2 separate regions of the Homo sapiens genome follow, and region 2 is linked to region 1. The links come from fine-mapping of genetic effects on gene expression. A gene starts in region 1. The other region holds a variant in brackets. All regions are shown on one strand. Distances are from middle to middle. Region 1 holds the start of SH2D1A (SH2 domain containing 1A). Region 2 has its middle 110 kb from the start of TEX13D.

Region 1 (5,381 bases):
TTCTAAAAGGTTGTAACTGTGAAGCTCTCTTCCTCCATTCTATGATTTTCCCCCTTAAGTTATTGTAAAATGTCAAGAATGAAAATATTTCCTTTATTGAGGGAGATTGAGGAAACAGGTCTTTGTTCTTGTGCACAAATAAGTTCAATTCATTTCCCCTCTGTTTCTCTCTAAAACACATTTGGCTTTTGTTTAGAGAATAGAATGTTAAACCTAGACGTGACCTTAGGGGTCATCTGGTTCAATTCCATTTGACAGATGGAGAAAATGAGACTCAGAGAGAAGTGATTTAGTGGCAAAACATGGCATATATTTCAACTCTCCTACTTACTGGACTACTGCTCCTTCCAATTCATCTTGTCATTTCAAAGACGACCATAGGCATGTAGAACCAATATTGTGTGTGTGTGTGTGTGTGTGTGCGTGAGTGTAAAAGAGAATTTCAGTATTTTTTCTTTTATTGAGAGCATTAAGTTCATTCATTCATTCATTCACACAACAAATATATATAGCACCTACTACTTGCCAGACACAGGATACAGTGGTGAGCAAAGTACACAAAATCCCTCCATCATGGACCTTACATTCTAGTGGGGGACACAGACGATAAACCATTAATTAAATAATTCTGCTCCTAAGTGGTTTATACTTGTACTTGGGGTCCATTCTTCCTAACTCTTTCTCTGTTGGTGCCTCTACTATCTCCATTGCTCTCCTCTTTCATTTTCTCCCATTTCCTCTCGTGTGTATGGGGAGAGAAGGAAGAGAGTCATTTCAATTCCTCTTTTCTCTACGCTTCAAGCTCAGTGTGAAGTTTTGAATTTGCTAAAGTCAGGTTTAGTACTGGTGTAGGATTAGAGTGAAGATGTCAGTATTTTTCATCAACACTGCACTAGTGGGCTGGCTCGGCTGGCTCAGCTGTCAGCTTGCTTGTAAGATGACAATGAGGTACTGGATGTGAAAGTTGTACTATTACCTTATAATTTATCTGTTTTTTAGTGCAATTTTAGTTGTGCTGAACCCCGTCATACCTGGCTGCTTTGACAGGTGTGCTATTTTAGCAACATGGAACAAAACAGAGAAAGAAAAAAAGAGTGCATGGTACGCTTGTGCTGTCAGATCCAGGTTGCTCTGTTCCTAAGTTTATGGATGATTTGTTCAGAGTTGTTAAGAGACAAAAAAAGGTTAGGTTTTGTTTTCACTTATGTGACACTGAATGTTCTCACAGTTCACCTCACAGGTCAGCTGTTGCTCATATGGACTGATATAAAGGGATCCCTTTCCCTGTCTCCTTTCTATTTGAAATTCCACCATTTTGATTAATTCCTCTGGGCTAACCATTTGCCTGCTCAATATATGGAGAGCCCAAGGTGGACAACCTTTCAAATCCTTAATGTTGGAGTATGCATTCATATATCAGATTAATTTCTTCCTTGATCCAAAGCATGAAAAGGGGTAAGAGGTGGAGTTGGTCAAAAACATGTGAGGAAGGAAGATGATAAAATAATATTGGTCCCATTCCCCAGAGCCATCCCCAAATGTCACCTTGAATGCTTTAAAAAAAAATTCTTAATGCTGAAAATGACTAGTAGGAGACTTATGTTTATACTTTGCATACTAAGGCTGGACACTCTTCAATCAAGAAGAAAAGTTGCTACCAGCTACCACTGAAATCTTAGAGGATTGTTCTTAATCCTAGTAGATGAAGAGCAAATATCTGCCTTTGGTGCAAGTCAGCTCTGTACATCCAATCCATTGGTAAGACATGTGAGGAATTAAGTGTCGTTCTCGCTATTGAGTTCCCAGCCTTGCCATATTCTCAAAGAACTACACACTGAAGTTGCAGAAAGCATATAATAGACGACATAGCTTCAGTTATTTAAATTCAAATTTTAAAAGTACTTTACATAATCTAAAGGTACATGTACAAGACCATTCAGCTTCAGCAATAAATAAAGTCTTACTCTAGTGAAAATGCAGGAAGCTTTGCGGAAATATTACCTAGCACATTTTGAAATAGAAGCAATGTTTTATTTCAGAGAAGAAAATGAAGGTTGAAAGGTTTTAAAATATTAAAGACAGTTTAGCCTCAATCGAAGAAATAACATTTTCTAGAAACAACAGAGAATAAAAGTTACAACAAAATTATCAACAACTTGCAAATGATTCAAAACAGATTTTATGGACAAAATGCTGAAAGGTGGGCCCTGTACACCAAAGGGCACATACAAATCCACATAAAGGCAAAGCACCAGTTAAATGATTCACAGTCTCATCTAAAGCCCATCAAATAGATACATCTGGAACATCTTTGGATGTACATTGTGACTTTTGTATCTCAACTAGCACTTTGGGACCTTGGACAAGGTGTTAGGAAAGAAATCAATATTTGCTCAGGATCAAGACTTCTCAAGATGACTGCGTGAGGTAGAAGGAAGAGGGAGAAGAAGAACTTGCCCAGAGTTCACTGTTCATCTACTATGTCTGATTCTGTAGGAGTCTTCATGGCCATGTTCAGTAATGATTGCATACTGACAGTACTGATAAAACTATCAGTGTTTTGTTCTCAGAGCTCTTGGTCCTTTCATTTTGTCAGTGTGTTTTTGCCCTACGTAGTGGGTCCACATACCAACAGAGACATGTACAACTTGCCTCTATCATCAACTCCTTATGGGCTAGTTGAGCTAAGTTATTCCTGGTGGCCTCTGAGTAAACCGCAAGAACAGAAGCATTACTAAGCATCCCCGTCTGAGTGCAAGGGTGTGTGTTGGCAGTACAGCCCCAATCTTGCAAAATCCTTCTTCCAATGTTCCTCCCCTCTCTGTATGAACCCTGTGTTGGGGGGCAGAAGATGGAAGCCCTTGGCAAGCTCGATCGAACCAAGCTACTAAATTGCTGAGCTCGTTTTAACTGAAGTGTGAGAAGGAGGTTTAAGGCAAGTAGACAACATCCTGTTGTTGGGGTGCTTCTCTCTTTTTTGCACATCTGGCTGAACTGGGAGTCAGGTGGTTGACTTGTGCCTGGCTGCAGTAGCAGCGGCATCTCCCTTGCACAGTTCTCCTCCTCGGCCTGCCCAAGAGTCCACCAGGCCATGGACGCAGTGGCTGTGTATCATGGCAAAATCAGCAGGGAAACCGGCGAGAAGCTCCTGCTTGCCACTGGGCTGGATGGCAGCTATTTGCTGAGGGACAGCGAGAGCGTGCCAGGCGTGTACTGCCTATGTGTGCTGTGAGTATGATACGGTGGACATGGGCCTGCTGAGGGTGTGGGCGGTGGGCAACAGCAGCTGGGGCCAGGGTGGAGGCCGAGGCAGGCAGGGGCGCCGGCGTTAGCAGCTCGCCGACGCCTCCTCCGTGGCCCACCCTCAAGTCCAGCCCAGGGCCGTGGTGGAACACACTTTCGCCTCAATCCCTCGCTGGGGATTTCATTCCCTGGGCCTCCTGCTCTCCAGAAGGCCCTCACCAGAGCCTTTTGGGGCAGCTGCAGAGAATGCCATTTCGGGTGGTGAAATGTGGTCCACAGTTTACCTTCGCTCCGGGAAAGACCCAGGCTCCCCACTTCCATTTTGACCCCTATCGGGTGGCGCCCTGCGAGCCTTACTCTAGCTCTCTTTAAACGACTTTTGAAGTGTCATCCCAAAGGAAGAGCATGACATTCAGAGAGAGGAGGCACATTAAGAAACAGAGTCAATTACTTTAAGAATGCAATGCCAGTTAGGTCGAGATGCTGAGAGAGGAGGGGGATGTGTGTCAGTAAAATCACCTCTCTGGATCTGCTGATGTAGCATCCTTTAGAAAAGTAGTGGGGGGTGGGGAGGGGCAGGGGATTTCAGAAATAGGACCCTTCTTGATAAACGTTAGGACTCACAATAGTCTTAAAGGGAATGGAGGGAAAACACCCTTGTTATGATTCAGCTTTGCCATTTGCCTAGGCATGTCTCATTCTAAGGCTTCATTTTGAATCAAATTCATCTGCGTCTTTGCTCCAGGGCTCCGGAGTCAGGCAGATCTGAGACTTTGTCCTGTGCTCGTCAGATGTTAGGTTTGTGACTTGGGCAAATTAACCTCTCAGTTCCCCAGTTTTCTTATCCATTGAATAGGTATCATATTACTGCCTACCTCATAGGATTGTAAGATTAAGTGCCATAATGCAGTAAAAAAATTAGCACTGGGGCCTGACACCTAGTAAATGTTCAATAAATGTAAGCTATTGGTATTATTATTATACCAAAGATATATTATTATTTTATCTTCTCTTTTCAGTTGATTTCTTTTAGGAATCATGGGGGCATTTCTAAGGAAGGACCTAGCTCAGGCATTATTGTCAGCAGGATAAAAAAAAAAATCCATGAAAACAGCAGCCCTGCATTGTAGGTTCTAGACAGAAACCAAATGAGGTTAAATGCTTGGTAGTAAGTTCAGCATCTGATAATACCCCACAAGAGTTTGAAATACCTTATGGGTCAGTGAAGAAAGATTATCCTGATGCTGGTGCTAGAAGATTTTTCACTGTATATTGTTTTTTAAAAACGGTCAAGCCTTGTTTGTGGCAGCTCTCAGGTCATGCTAAATACATTTTTCACAAAGGCTTCAAGGGAAATACGTGGAAGCTATTGAATGTCTTGGGCTTGAATCTTTATGTTTTGCTTATATAATTATTGTTCCCGTGTGGAACCTAGGGAAGGGCAATGAAAACCAGCTAGGATTCTTAGGCTCTTTTCTCATTGAAAGAAGGTGGAGTGAGTGGGTGGGTGAAAGGCGCTGCTTTAGGGAAGCTGACAAAGGAGATAACATGCTCCTTAACCCAAAGGTGAAAAAGAATGTACAAAACAAGTCTGGGCAGGGGAGGGACAACAGGGTATAGTGAGAGGCAAGATATACCTAAGGCTTCAGCCTCACGGGGCTCCTGGCCGTTTCTCAAGCTCCTCAAAAATGCCCCCACTTAGGATTTCTGCGCTTATTGTTCCTTCTGCCCAAAATACCTTCAGTTCACATGTTTGTTCAACTGTCTCCTCCCTCAGAGAGGACTTGCTTGACCACCTATCTAGAACAAGTGCCCTCTCCCTGTCCCTGATACACTCACTCCATCTCTTTATTTTTCTTCAAAGAGCTTTAAACTATCTGATAATTTGCTTGTTTACCTACTTATTGCTGGGCTGTCCTGCAAAAATATAATCTCCATGAGGGCGGAGATACTGTCTCCATCACCAGAAACACAGGAACACATAATAGGCACTCAGCAGATATTTTTGAATTAACAAACTGTCAAGGCAAATTCTGTTCTTTACTGCAATAAACGGAATGGCCATTGAGAGGTTAGGGTATGGACTCTGGGAAAGTCACTCAAATTCTCTGGGACTCAGTTTCCATATTTATAAAACA
Region 2 (5,381 bases), 130 kb before region 1:
CCTCTCTGAAACTGGTCAAAATGTGGTACAGGGTCTTCACTTTTTGAAAATCCACACTAGCTCCTTTTTCATCTTTAAAAAATGCAAATTCGATCATGTTGTTCCCCTGCTTAAAACCCCTGAATGACTTTCTGGTCCTTAGGCTAAATCCAAAAACTATAATATGGCCTACAAAACCCTACATCATTTGACATCCTGCCTGCTTCTTCAGTATCATCTGAATTATTTCTCTGGGTTCAGTCAGTTTCCCAGAGTGGAATCTTCCAATCTTCCGCTTGGCATGTGTAACCTGGCTGTCAGTATTTTGGGAACTGAGTCAAGGATGGGGACTGGAGGTCTCAATGTTCAGAAGGCAGACTCCAACTTAATCCCAGTTTTCAACATAGCTTCTCAGTGGGCCCTCAGCTGTGCTTGGTTTAAATGTTTTCTCCCCTGCTGGGATGGAGGGAGGGATTTGGGGGCTGTTTCTTATCATCATGTTCAATCTATCATCCTGTTTTCAACTCCATACCAAAACTCCCACTTTCAGAGATAACTGGTACCCTCAAAACCTGAGCTTTTTGAGGTTTGGAGTATAAACCGCATCCTTGGGTTTTGGCTTTTTCTAATCTGCTAAACCACTCATTTAGCCATTCTCTAGTTTCCATATTTGCACATGTACACGCATGCACGCGTGTGTGCTTCTTGCTTATTATAGCCTCTCCCCCTTTTTCCTTTGTACTCACTGCATTTGGCCTTTTAATCCCCTGTTCTTTTTTTGTGGGATCTCAGGAAGGAGCTCAGATAAGTGCATGTGTTCAATTTGCCCAATTTAATTGGAAGTGAAGTTGTTTTAAATAACAAACACCTGTTTCATTTTAAAGCCAATCCCATGAACAAAAACTGGATTTCCTGGAATCATGAAATATTATAACAAAAAATGTTCATCCAGTCCATTGTTTCTTGTCTTTTTGCTACCAAGTATCTCTTTTATTATATTATATCTACCCCTCACTCCAACCCCACAATTGAAAAGATTCAGACTTCCAAACCTTAGTTTGGGAAACTTTGCTCAAGTCAATGCCCTCGTTTTACAGATGAAAAGACTGAGGCCAAGAGATAGAAGTGATTTGTTGAAGTCTAACCACTAATAAGGGGCCAAGTTAGGATGGGCACCCAAGTCTCCTACTTCCTCTTCTGCTGCTTTTCTATCTAGGATGTGAGATTTCTGACTGCCCCCAAACTGATGGGAGGGTGAGGGAAAACTTTCCTTCTGACTGTGGTTTTTCTTAGCAACATCATTACTGGCATTGAAACATTACTTCTTCTGGTGGCTAAGAGGAAAATGCTCTCCGCCACCTTGAAGGCCACAGGTGGCCAGACATTCTGGGAATCACTGGAGCTTTCTCAGGGCCACAGGGGAACCGTTTGTTTGAAATGTAATAAAGGTTCCTTTACACCAAACGTGGAGAAAAAGCTGCACTGGGAACACAACAGAATCAGCGTGAGAGGTCTTTTCTAGCCACTTAACCAGCCAATCAGCAAGGGGGCGCCTGCTGGGAACTCTTTCCTCTCCTGGAAGTTACCAGGGATACACGGGCTTGGCCCTGAAGGGGCTTCTGATCAAATTGCAGAGACCAGACAGCTTATCGAACAGCTTATAACCTCTCTAAAGGCAGGACCTTTCTTATTCTTATTTCTTGTGGGCCTCAGTGCCCCAGGCCTCCTGCTGGACACATGTTAGTTACCTATAGCTTAATTAAAGCTTCTTTGGTGCATTATTTCCTCTCCCCAAAGTGGAAATAATGAGCGAGTGCTGAGCTGATGTGACCACGTAGCCCCATTCCCCAAGGTAAAGTGACTACATACATTTTGTCTTGGAAACTCACTGCCTTCTGCAGAGTCCTTTTTCACTGGTAAAGGTTAAGTTTTGTTATTCTCCTGGATCTTTTGAAAACAATGCCTATAAATGAGGAAGCTAGCAATAAAACCCCTACTGTTTGTATAGGCTTTGTAGCTTACTGTGATCTAATTTAATCTCCTATCTTGTCTTTTTCCTCAGTGCTTTGTACACAAATGTTATTGATTCCCTCCAGAGGCAGCCATGTGTGGTAGAATAAACAGCATGAGTCTGGAGTTTTAGCACCCACCTCTTCAACGATCTGAGTGCTGTTAGGCAAGCTGCTTCCCCTCCCTAAGCCTCAATTTACCCGCATACAGAATGAGGAAAGGGTTTGGACTCCACAGAATCTGAGGCCTCTCTAGTTTCTCATTGGAGTGCAAGTGCCATTGTGTGGTTTCTGCTGTGGGCGTGGTTGTTCCAAACCAAAGGGCAGGGACAGGATGCAGTCTGCTGATCAGGGACAGAGGAAGAGAGACACAGCAGCTTTGCACATTTGTGGGTCCTTA[T/C]TCCCTCTCCTTACATTTCCCAGACTGTTTAAGTTCATGATCTCAGGGCAGCGCCTGTCCGCCCCCTACCACACACATCATACTATTCAGAGTTTCTTTCCCAGGGTCTACTTTAAAGCCAGTAGATTTTCAGGGGTCTCAGATCTTCTTATTGCTTGCCCTCTTGACATCTGAGGCCTGAAAAGAATTTGGGTTGCCTGCCTAGGCAGGCTTCCGGAGGCCTCAGCCTTCTGTCTTCCGGGGCTGGGGGTAGGAGGGTGCCAGAGCACAGGCAGTCATTGTTTGGGTATTGACTCAAAGGAGAAGGAGCCACAATGCACAGGAAAAAGGATGAGCTCATGACAGCTAAATGAAAAGATTCTTATCTTGGAAACAGCGGTTTCTTATGCAGAACAAGGGGCGGCAATGTGATTGTGCCCAAGGAGTACATTCAACAACAGGGATTTCAAATGAAGAAGTTATTTTGCATACTTACGGGAGGAGCAATGGGCCAGATTGTTCATTAATTAAAGGGGGGGGGTGCTGAACCCCCTACACACACACACACACACACACACACACACACACACACACACTGCAGAACTTAAATAATTCATTCGCTTTCTCCTCTTTCTCCTCAGTCCCAGATGATCAGCTGAGAGACAAATGTTTTTTCAACTCTAGCCACCTCTGGAGAAAGGATGGGGGAGAGGATGGGGGAGGACGGGAGAAGGGATGTGGTGGGGAGGGGAGGGGTGTCACAGATAACTAGAATGGCAGTGATCTCTCAACCATTTCTATTTGGTGTTCAAATGTATTGTACGGAGCTGGTGATTTTTTGTTTCCTTTTTTTGCACCCAGGAGATTTACCTTTCTAGTTCTGTTTGATTTCACATGAAAGAAGTCTGAGCAAATCCCCACTGAAGACGAGTAGAGGAAAGGAGAGAAATGCAGAGGGTGCAGGTCAGGGAGGCCAGGAATATGTTCTTTGACCACAGTCCCTCTCTTTCCCCAACTCTGACACGTGGTCCCCTGAGGGGAAGGACTAGATCTGTGGCTGTCCTGGAAATTCCGGAATGTAGGTCACCCACTAAATGGGTAATGCCAGAAGTGGAGAGTAGAGTTGTATGTGGTTGCAGGTGGGAGGCATCAACACCGCCCACATATCTTTCCTATCAGCCAGACTGCTCTCCTTCTACCCCAGATCATCTTTTGATTTAGGAATAAGAATGGTTATCATCTATCAAGTACTTTCACATTCATTACCTCTTTTATTATCCCCTCTCACATGTGTTATACATGTGTGCCAGATACTTTCACATATATTAGCTTATTTGAGTTGCTCAGGGACCCTGGGAGATAGCTCGGTATTACTGCTCCTGTCTTAGAAATGAGGATACCGAGGCTCAGAGACACTAAGTAGGTTACCCAAGGTCACACGGCTCAGAAATAGCAAAGCTGGAATTTGAACCCACATCGGTCTTGTTATCAACATCTGTGCTCTAAACTGCTATGCAATGCTAACTCTCCTCCCTTTCCCTCATTCTTCCCTACATCCACTTTGCCCTACTGTTACCCAAAAGGCAAACTTCCCATGTAGTTGGCATTCTGGCAAGCAAAGCAAGGACGGAGGTCTTTCATGAATGTGAGACACTCCTCTCAACCATGCATACCATCATTATGGAAGGCAAATTAAGGAAGAAAAGCCTCATAGATCTCCTCTCTACCTCAGGCTCACAGATAGGATTAACTTCTTTTAAGTGAGGATTATTGAGGTATAATTTTCAAACAGTAAAATTCTCCTTTTAAAAGTGCAAATAAGTTTCAACAAACATATCCTATTATGTCACCACCAACACAATCAAGACAGGATATTTTTATTACCCCAATAAGTTCTCTTGTGCTTCTTTGTGGTCAGTCTGCTCTCTCCATACACAACCTTTGGCAGCCTCTGATCTATCTTCTATTCCAGCAGTTTTGCAGTTTCAGAATGTCATATTAATGGAATCATAGAATATATACTCTTTTAGGTCGACTTCTTTCATTTAGCATAACGCCTTTCTTCCTTCCTTCCTTTCTTCCTTCTTTCCTTCCTCTTTCTTTCTTTCTTTTCTCTTTCTTTCTTTCTTTCTTTCTTTCTTTCTTTCTTTTTCTTTCTTCTCTCTTTCTGTCTCCTTCTCTCTTTCTTTTTCTTTCTGTCTTTCTGTCTTTTCTTTCTTTCCCTTTTTCTCTCTTTCTCTCTCTCCTCTCTCTCCTTCACTCTTTCTCCCTTTCTCTCTGTCACTCCTTTTCTCTCTGTCACTTCTTTTCTCTCTTTCTCTCTCTCCTCTCTCTCCTTCACTCTTTCTCCCTTTCTCTCTGTCACTCCTTCTCTCTCTTTCTCTCTCTCTCCTTCTCTTTTTCTCTTTCTTTCTTCTTTTCTTCTCTTCTCTTTCTTTCCTTTTCTTTCTTCTTTTCTGCAGGGTCTCACTCTTGTCACCCAGGCTGGAGTGCAGTGGCAGAATCATAGCTCCCTGCAGCCTTCAACTCCTGGGCTCAAGCAATCCTCCCATCTCAGCCTCCTGAGTAGCTAGGACTACAGGCACATGGCACCATGCCCTGTTAATTAAACTTTTTTTTTTTTGGTGGAGGTAGAGTCTTGCCATGTTGCCCAGGCTGGTCTCAAACTTCTGGGCTCAAGCTATCCTCCTGCCTTAACCTCCAGTGCTTTTGAGATTCATCCATGTGTTAGTTCATTCCTTTGTATTGCCAAGTAATATTCCATTGTATGGATGTGTCACAATTTGTTTATCCATTCTCCAGCTGATGGACATTTGGGTTGTTCCCAGCTTTGAGTGATAATTAGTGAAGCTGCTATAGACATTTACTTACAGGCTTTTGTGTGAATGTGTATCTTCATTTCTTTTGGGTAAATGCCTAGACATTGGGTTACCGGGTCATATGGTAAGTGTATCTCTAGCTTTATAAAAAACTGCTAATGGGGTTCAGTACATGCTACTTCAAAATATGGCATC

The links.
Region 2: its variant is fine-mapped to the expression of SH2D1A in whole blood (TOPMed, PIP above 0.99). The same link has a PIP of 0.9 or more in blood mononuclear cells.

The regions. Positions count from the first base shown.
Region 1 is chrX:124,343,552-124,348,932 of GRCh38, forward strand. It overlaps SH2D1A (SH2 domain containing 1A), which reads left to right and starts at 3,012. Exons shown (of 4, transcript NM_002351.5): 1 at 3,012-3,228. The coding sequence starts at 3,092.
Region 2 is chrX:124,215,388-124,220,768 of GRCh38, forward strand. No RefSeq gene overlaps it. Among named protein-coding and RNA genes, the nearest start is that of TEX13D, 110 kb to the right of the region's middle. RefSeq lists an enhancer at 1,590-3,350. The variant T/C (reference allele first, on the strand shown) is at 2,389.